Regions from separate parts of the Homo sapiens genome. Here all the other regions are linked to region 3. Evidence: fine-mapped expression QTL. A gene starts in region 3. Each other region holds a variant in brackets. All regions are shown on one strand. Distances are between the middles of the regions.

Region 1 (2,764 bases), 33 kb before region 3:
GGCTAATTTTTGTATTTTTAGTAGAGATGGAGTTTTACCATGTTGGCCAGACTGGTTTCGGACTCCTGATCTCAAGTGATCCGACCATCCTGGCCTCCCAAAGGGCTGGGATTACAGATTTTCCAGGCCAGATTTTCATTTATTTTTTCATCAAAATAATTATCATTGAGTGTCTACAATGGGCTAGGCACTGTGTTAAGAGCTTGGAATATATTAGTGAACAAAGCAAATACAGGTCTCTGCCTTCGTGAAGTCTATATATTTTAGTGATGAGGGGAGAGAGACAATAAGCAACTAAGATAATAAATTATAGGCTGGGTATGGTGGCTTATGCCTATAATCCCAGCACTTTGGGAGGCCAAGGTGGGTGGATCACCTGAGGTCAGGAGTTCAGACCAACCTGACCAACATGGTGAAACCCTGTGTCTACTAAAAACACAAAAATTAGCTGGGCGTGGTGGCGGGCACCTGTAATCCCAGCTACTCAGGAGGCTGAGGCAGGAGAATCGCTTGAACCCGGGTGGTGGAGGTTGCAGTAAGCTGAGATGGTGCCACTGCACTCCAGCCTAGGTGACAGAGTGAGACTCTGTCTCAAAATAAATAAAATAAAATAAATAAATAAATAAATAAATAAATAAATAAATAAATAAATAAATATAGTATGTTAGAAGGTGATAAGAGATAAAGAAAAAAGAACAAATATAGAACAAGAAAAGGGAGATTGGAAATGCTTATAGGGCATCACATTAGATGATTATCAGGGAAGGTCCAACAGAGAAGTTGATATTTAAGTAGACTTATAAGAAATGAGACAGTAGGGCTGGGCACGGTGGCACATGTCTGTAATCCCAGCACTTTGGGAGGCCGAGGCGGGTGGATCGTTTGAAGTCAAGAGTAGAAACCCCGTCTCTACTAAAAATACAAAAATTAGCTGGGCGGTAGTGGCACACTCCTGTAATCCCAGCTACTTGGGAGAATGAGGCAGGAGAATTGCTTGAGCCTGGGAGGTAGAGTTTGCGGTGAGTGGAGATTGCATCACTGCACTCCAGTCTGGGCGACAGAGTGAGACTCTGTCTTAAAAAAAAAGAAATGAGAGAATAAGGTTTGTGGAACATTCCAGGTAGAGTGAATAGCCAATGCAACAAGTCTAAAGTGGAAGGGAGGGTGCCTGGCTGGCTTGTTCAGGAACAGCAAGGATGCAGGTGTAGCTGGAAGAGAGAGAAGAAGAAGGGGCAGAACTAGATGAAGTCAAAGGGGGAGGGCTGG[G/A]AAATCATCTAAGACCATTATAAGAACTTTGGCTTTGACTCCCAATGAAATGAGTAGATAAGTGAATAATAATCTTTTGTTATTCAGATTTCAAAAGAATCAAACTTGACTGCTAGGGAGGGAAAGGTGGAAGCAGGGAGATCAGTTAGGAGACAGCCTCCCTTACAAGTTAGGGAGGACAATGACTCTGATGACTAGGGCAGTAGTAGAGATGGTGGAAACATGCAGATTCTGGATATATTCTGAACGTACAAACGACAGGACTGCCTGTTAAATTGGATATGGGGTATAACAGAAAAGGAGTCATAAGGATGACTTCATGTTTTTTGGCTTGAAAGAATGGAGGTGGAGAAAGCCATGAGTGGTAAAGCTTTTGGAAGGAGAATCAGAAATGTAGTACTGGACATATTCAGTCTGAGATGAATTTTGGACATCCAAGTGGTGGGGATGTCAAGTGGGCAATAGGGTATATGAGTCTGGGGTTCAGGAGAGATGTCTGAAGTCTGGGAGATATAAATTTGGGAGCTGTTGGCTGGACATGGTGGCTCATGCCTGTAATCCCAGCACTTTGGGAGGCCGAGGCGGGCAGATCATGAGGTCAGGAGATCGAGACCATCCTGGCTAACATGGTGAAAACCCATCTCTACTAAAAATACAAAAAATTAGCTGGGCATGGTGGCACATGCCTGCAGTCCCAGCTACTTGGGAGGCTGAGGCAGGAGAATCGCTTGAACCCGAGAGGTGGAGGTTGCAGTGAGCCTAGACTGCACCATTGCACTCTAGCCTGGGCAACAGAGCAAGACTCCATTTCAAAAAAAACAAAACAAAACTGGGAGCTGTTGGCTGGGCATGGTGGCGCACACCTGTAATCCCAGCACTTTGGGAGGCCGAGGCAGGCAGATCATGAGGTCAAGAGATCAAGGCCATCCTGGCCAACATGGTGAAACCCCGTGTCTACTAAAAATACAAAAATTAGCTGGGCGTGGTGGCATGCGACTGTAGTCTCAGCTACTTGGGAGGCTGAGGCAGGAGAATCACTCGAACCCATGAGGCAGTGGTTGCAGTGAGCTGAGATCATGCCACTGCACTCCAGCCTGGTGACAGAGTAAGACTCCGTCTCAAAAATAAATAAATAAATAAATAAAATAAAAATAAATAAATAAAATAAAATAAAAAAATAAATCTGGGAGCTGTCAACATATGGATGGTATTTAAAAGCATGCTGCTGGATGAGATCATCAAGGGACTGAGTCTGTAGACAGAAGAAAGAGTGGACGAGTGAACCCTGTCACACACTGTTAATAAAAGATCAGGAAGAAAAGGAAGAACTAGGAAAAGGAAACTAAGGATGCCTGATGAGGAAGGAGGAAAACCAGAAGAGTCTGGTGTCCTGGAAGCTAATTATTTCTTTATTTTATTTATTTATTTTTTTGAGATGGAGTCTCACTCTGTTGCCCAGGCTGGAGTGCAGTGGTGCGATCTTGGCTCACTGCAAGCT
Region 2 (2,764 bases), 21 kb after region 3:
TTGTAAAAGTATGTGTGGGATGGGGTATATGCTGGTGTGGACATCTTTGAAAAATACATTTGTTATGCCCACTCATCTTTTTTATACTGATTTCTAGTTAATTGTTTTCAGAGGAAATGATCTTATAGTTTCAGTGGTCTTTCTTTTTCTGTTTCTTCTTTTTTTTAAAAAAATTTTTATTTTATTTATTTATTTTTGAGATGGAGTCTCGCTCTGTCACCAGGCTGGAGTGAAGTGGTGTGATCTCGGCTCACCGCAACCTCTGTCTCCTGGGTTCAAGCGATTCTCCTGCCTCAGCCTCCTGAGTAGCTGAGACTACAGGCGCACGCCACCATGCCCAGCTCATTTTTGTATTTTTAGTAGAGACATGGGGTTACACCATGTTGGCCAGGATGGTCTTGATCTCTTGACCTCATGATCCGCCCACCTTGGCCTCCCAGTTTTTAAATATTTTTGTTTCACCATCTCAGTCTTTCTTTTTCTGGATCTCCAGTTTATATACAGGCATACTTCTGATATATTTAAGTTCAGTTTCAGACCACTGCAATAAAGCAAATATTGTAATAAAGTGAATATTGCAGTAGAGCAAGTCACATGAAACTTTTGTTTTCCCATTGCGTATAAGACTTATGTTTATACTGTACTATAGTCTATTTAAAGTGTATAATAGCACCATGTCTACAAAAATATCCACACATTGATTAGAAAATATTAAAAAAATGCTAACGGTCATCGGTCATCTGAGCCTTCATTGAATTGTAATCTTTTTGCTGGTGGAGGTTCTTTACTTCATGGTGGTGGCTGCAGACTAATCAGGATAGTGGATGCTGAAAGTTGGAGTGGATGTGGCAATTTCTTGAAATAAGACAATGACGTATGCTGCATCAGTGGACTGTTCCTTTAATGAAAGATTTGTCTGTAGCATGCAGTGCCATTTGATAGCATTTTATGCACAATATAACTTTTTTCAAAATTGGAGTCAGTCTTCTCAAACCCTGCAGCTGCTTTATCAACTATGTTGATGTAATATTATACATACTTCGTTGTCATTTCAACAGTGTT[C/G]TCAGCATCTTCTCAAGGAGTAGATTCTATCTCAAGAAACCACTTTCTTTGGTCATCAGTAAGAAGCAGCTTATCATCTGTTCATGTTTTATTGTGAGATTGCTGCAGTTCAGTCATATCTTTAGGCTCCATTTTAAATTCTAATTATCTTTGTTTCCACCACATCTGCAATTCCTTCTTCCACTGAAGTCTTGAAGCCATCAAAGTCATCCATGAGGCTTGGGAACAACCTCTTCCAAACTCCTGTTAATGTTATGTTGACCTCTTCCCACGAGTCATGAATGTTCTTAATGGCACCCAGAAAGGTGAATTCTTTACAGAAGGTTTTACGTTTACCTTGCCCAGATCCATAAGGGGAATCACTGTCTATGGCAGCTAAAGCCTCATGAAATATTTTAAATAATAAGACTTGAAAGTTAAAATTACTCCTTGATCCATGGGCTGCAGAGTGGATGTTGTGTTAGCAGGTGGGAAAACATTAATCTCCTTGTACATCTTTAACAGAGCCCTTGGGTAACTAGGTGCATTGTCAATAAGCAGTAGTATTTTGAAGGAATCTTATTTTTCTGAGCAGTAGGTCTCAACGGTGGGCTTAAAACATTCAGTAAACCTTACTGTCAACAGATGTGTTGTCATTCAGGCTTTGTTTTTCCATTTAGAGAGCAAAGGCAAAGTAGATTTAGTGTAATTTTGTTGTTGTTGTTCCCTGAGACAGGATCTCACTGTTGCCCAGGCCGGAGTGCGGTGGTGTGATCTCAACTAACTACAGCCTCTGCCTCCTGGGTTCAGGTGATTCTCCCACCTCAACCTCCTGAGTATCTGGGACTACAGGCCTGCACCACCATGCCCAGCTAATTTTTTTTTTTCTTTTTTTTTTTTTTTTGAGACAGTCTCGCTCTGTCACTCAGGCTGGAGAGTATAGTGGCGTGATCTTGGCTCACTGCAACCTCTGCCTCCTGGGTTCAAATGATTCTCCTGCCTTAGCCTCTCAAGTAGCTGGGATTACAGGCTCCCACCACCATGCCCAGCTAATATTTTTAGTAGAGATGGGGTTTTTCCAAGTTGGCCAGGTTGGTCTCAAACTCTTGACCTCAGGTGATCTACCCACCTTAATTTTTGTATTTTTTATAAAGACGAGGTTTCACCATGTTGGCCAGGCTGGTCTTGAACTCCTGACCTCAGATGATCCGCTTGCCTCAGCCTCCCAAAGTGCTGGGATTACAGGCGTGAGCCACCACATCTGGCCTTGATTTAGCGTTAATTCTCAAGAGCCCTAGGATTTTCAGAATGGTCAATGAGCATTGGTTTCAGCTTAGTCATTAGCTGCCTTAGCCCCTAGCAGGAGAGGCAGCCTGTTCTTTGAGGCTTTGAAGCCAGGCATTCACTTCTAATTATGAAAGTCCTAGATGACATATTTTTCCAACACAAGGCCGTTTTGTCACATTAAAAATCTGTTGTTTAGTGTAGCCACCTTCATCAATTATCTTAGCTGGATCTTCTGGATAACTTGCTCCAGCTACTATGCCACCACTTGCTGCTTTACCTTGCACTTTTATGTTGTGGAGGCGGCTTCTTTCCTTAAATCTCATGCATCAACACTGCTAGTGTCCAACTTTTCTTCTATAACTTTCTCACCTCTCTCAGCCTTCATAGAAGTGAAGAGAGGTAGAGACTTGCTCCAGATTAGGCTTTGGCATAAGGG
Region 3 (2,764 bases):
CTGTCTCAACTTCCTTCTCTCTAGTTTAGTGAGTCTCAATCTTTAGCATTAGAGTCACCTGTGGAGCTTTAAAACAGTAATGACACCTGGCACAACCCAGAATTTAATTGGTCTAGAGTGGGGCAACAGTATTGGTTTTATTTAACAAAAAGTTTCCCAGGTGATTCAAATGCACATACAAGGTTGCGTTCCACTAGTGATCTTGATCTTATAAATTAGCCTCCCTCACCCTCGAAGAGGCCACTTCTCGGTTTCATGGTACGCTTTTGAGTCTTCTACCTAAACAGAAAACATTCCTGAGGGCCATATTCTCGTTCCTCATTTCTCTAACTTTATAACGATGCTTCTTTAAAGGGAAGTCTACACTAGTACGGTTTCCATCAGGTTTATTTTACTTCTTTTTTCTCTTTCAGACCACCACTGTCACATGCTCTTGCGCCCGTTATTCTGCTTTTACCTCCTTTCGTATTTCTTTGACCAGGTACTGGATTACTAGTCTTTTAACACAGTCCTCTAAAAGTGACCCAAAAGTCACCCTGGAAAGGGCTTCCTCACGTTATCCTCCTACACAACCTGGGACCCCTCTTCTGTGCGCAGACAGCATCCCGTGCATTTTTCTCTATTGTCACTTTATTGTACTACCACTGCGGATTCTCTCACGGTCTCCTATACAAAAGCACTTCAAAAAGCTGACACCACTTAATTCGCCTCTGACATTCTGGAACCCAAGGCATGGAAACCACTCAGTGAAAAGTCTGAGAAATGAATGGAAACGGAGGTCGGGGCGGGGACAATGGAGGGGGCAGTGGGTGGAGAGAGCGTGCGTGTTTGAAAAGGGGCGGGGGCTATGACCGGCGGCGCTGAGAATCCAGGTCCAGAATCGGGAGGGAGCACGGATACGCCAGAATCTGAGTGGGTGGGAGAGCGATCCACTGCCGAGACAAACCGAAGTGGGGAGGAGGCTTCTTACCTGCCTCGGGCCTCACCACCCCAACCAGCCTTCAGGCACCTCTGTGTTGGCCGGAAAGCGACAGCTACGGTCGCAAACTCAGAGGTTTCGTCCCCAACCTTGCGACATCCCTTTCCAGTACAGGGAGAATCTAAAGCTGAGTTCCCTGCTCTGCCGTAAGGTGAAGAAGAAAAAATTTGGGCGGGGCCGCCTGGGGCGTAGGAAAGGGGGCGTGTCTGCGCAAGCGCACGCTGTACTCTCCAGTGGCGTCACGTGCGGGGGCGGGACAGGGCGGGGCCGACCCGTGCTGGCAGTAGGGGGCGTGGGAGGTAAGTGCGCGCGCGCCTGCTCGCCTGCAGCCGGGGAGTCGCGCGGGGCGGGGCCGCGTGCGCGGGGTCGGGGGCGCGCGACCGAAGCGGATAAGGGACGCGGCGGCGGTTGGCTGTGTCTGTTGAGAGAGTACAGGACAGCCCGGACTGCGAGAGGCGGCGGCGGAGGCAGTAGTTGCACCGGCAGAGGCGGCCGCTGGCAGCGGTTGAGGCGGCGGTCCAACGCGTGCTCTCTGGGCGGGGTGCGGCGGGGGATGTGCCTGCTCAGGCCGGGCGGAGTCTCTCTGACAGGGCGGGGGATGCGCCGCGGCCGCTCGCCCGGACCCTGAGGCTGCTGGGCCCACCCTCCCGGAACCGTCCGACCCTCGGTGGCCTCGGCCTCTTCTGCCATCTCCGGTCCTACCCTGGGGCGGAGGGTGGAAGGCAGCTTCCGTCGAAGAGGAGGGGGCTGCGGTGGCCACCGCGGCGGAGCCCGAGGTAAGACCCGCCCAAGCGCCCAGCGGCCCTGCAGCCCGTCCTGGCCCACGTCTCAGCCTCGCTATTTGGCTCCGGTCGGGCCGCCCCGCCCCGTCCCAGCGGAGACGCCCCGCGAGCGGGTCTGCGCCGAGCCTCCCAAACACCAGATCACGGCCCCGGATCCCCAGTAGACCCCACCCCCTGTATCTTCCATTGGCCGGGCACCATTCCGGCCCTCCAGCCTCCCCGGAGATTCTGTCACGGTCCCCCCAACCCAGCAGACCCCATTAGTACCCCTCAGAGTCCCTTAGGACTCTTAATGGAGCTTCTAGACTACGTTACATCCTCCCTTGGGCTGACGTGATTACAGTTCTCAGGCAAAGTCTCGACCGCCCCCTAACCCATTGCGTCCCCCATGTGCCCCTCGCCCTACTCTTCTTAGTAGAACCCCTCCCAGCTCGCTCATCACCAAGCCGACTAGCACTAACCCTAGCCATCACGGCTTTCAGATAGCCGCTGTCATGGTGTTCTTACTCCCGGTAGATGTGGTGTCAGTCCCTCTAGACACCGTCACAGACTTTGGCTTCTCTCCCACCACCGACTGTAGCCTCTCTCAACAGACCTCTCCTCAAGCAAACCTTGTTATCTTTCTCCTTAGTCGCGATCCTTTCTTTGGTTGAAAGGGCTTTGCCATGAAATCCTGAGGGAATATTTGCTTAGCCTAATGTATTCCCTCCATTGTGGCTTAAGGGGACCGACCGAGACCCATGTTTGGAGGGGTTGGGCTGAAAAAAGTGGGAGGCAGAGTGAAGTTATGGAAGCATGAGGCCAGTTGTGTGTGTGCCATTATAAGGTCACAGAGCCTGCACCTCGTCTTGTCTGTTCTGTGTAGAACGTGTGAGGTTGTCCAGCACTGATGTTTTAGGGACCTCTGTAAGGATTAAATCACGTTGCACTAGTGGATATAACTATGTCGTCTTGTAGTATTACTTCACCTCCTTGTCGATTGCTGCAGATACTAGAACTGTTT

Which allele goes with the higher level. Alleles are on the strand shown, and positions count from the first base shown. SD is a standard deviation of normalised expression in the study named. Not every link is listed here.
For the expression in fibroblasts of the gene that starts at base 1,285 in region 3, G is the low allele of the variant in region 2 and C is the other (small effect, 0.26 SD a copy in GTEx).

What was found. PIP is the estimated chance that this variant, and not a neighbour inherited with it, causes the effect. A credible set is the group of variants that fine-mapping cannot tell apart.
Region 1: its variant is the best candidate, but not a certain one, in a credible set for the expression of MYO9A in whole blood (INTERVAL, PIP 0.86).
Region 2: its variant is the best candidate, but not a certain one, in a credible set for the expression of MYO9A in fibroblasts (GTEx, PIP 0.51).

Annotation. Positions count from the first base shown.
Region 1 is chr15:72,149,812-72,152,575 of GRCh38, reverse strand. No RefSeq gene overlaps it. Among named protein-coding and RNA genes, the nearest start is that of SENP8, 33 kb to the right of the region's middle. The variant G/A (reference allele first, on the strand shown) is at 1,267.
Region 2 is chr15:72,095,342-72,098,105 of GRCh38, reverse strand. All of the region lies in intron 1 of MYO9A (myosin IXA), which reads left to right. Among named protein-coding and RNA genes, the nearest start is that of MYO9A, 21 kb to the left of the region's middle. The variant C/G (reference allele first, on the strand shown) is at 1,063.
Region 3 is chr15:72,116,671-72,119,434 of GRCh38, reverse strand. It overlaps MYO9A (myosin IXA), which reads left to right and starts at 1,285. Exons shown (of 42, transcript NM_006901.4): 1 at 1,285-1,755. SENP8 (SUMO peptidase family member, NEDD8 specific) reads right to left here and starts at 1,032. Exons shown (of 2, transcript NM_145204.4): 1 at 971-1,032. RefSeq lists a silencer at 1,164-1,933 and an enhancer at 2,134-2,343.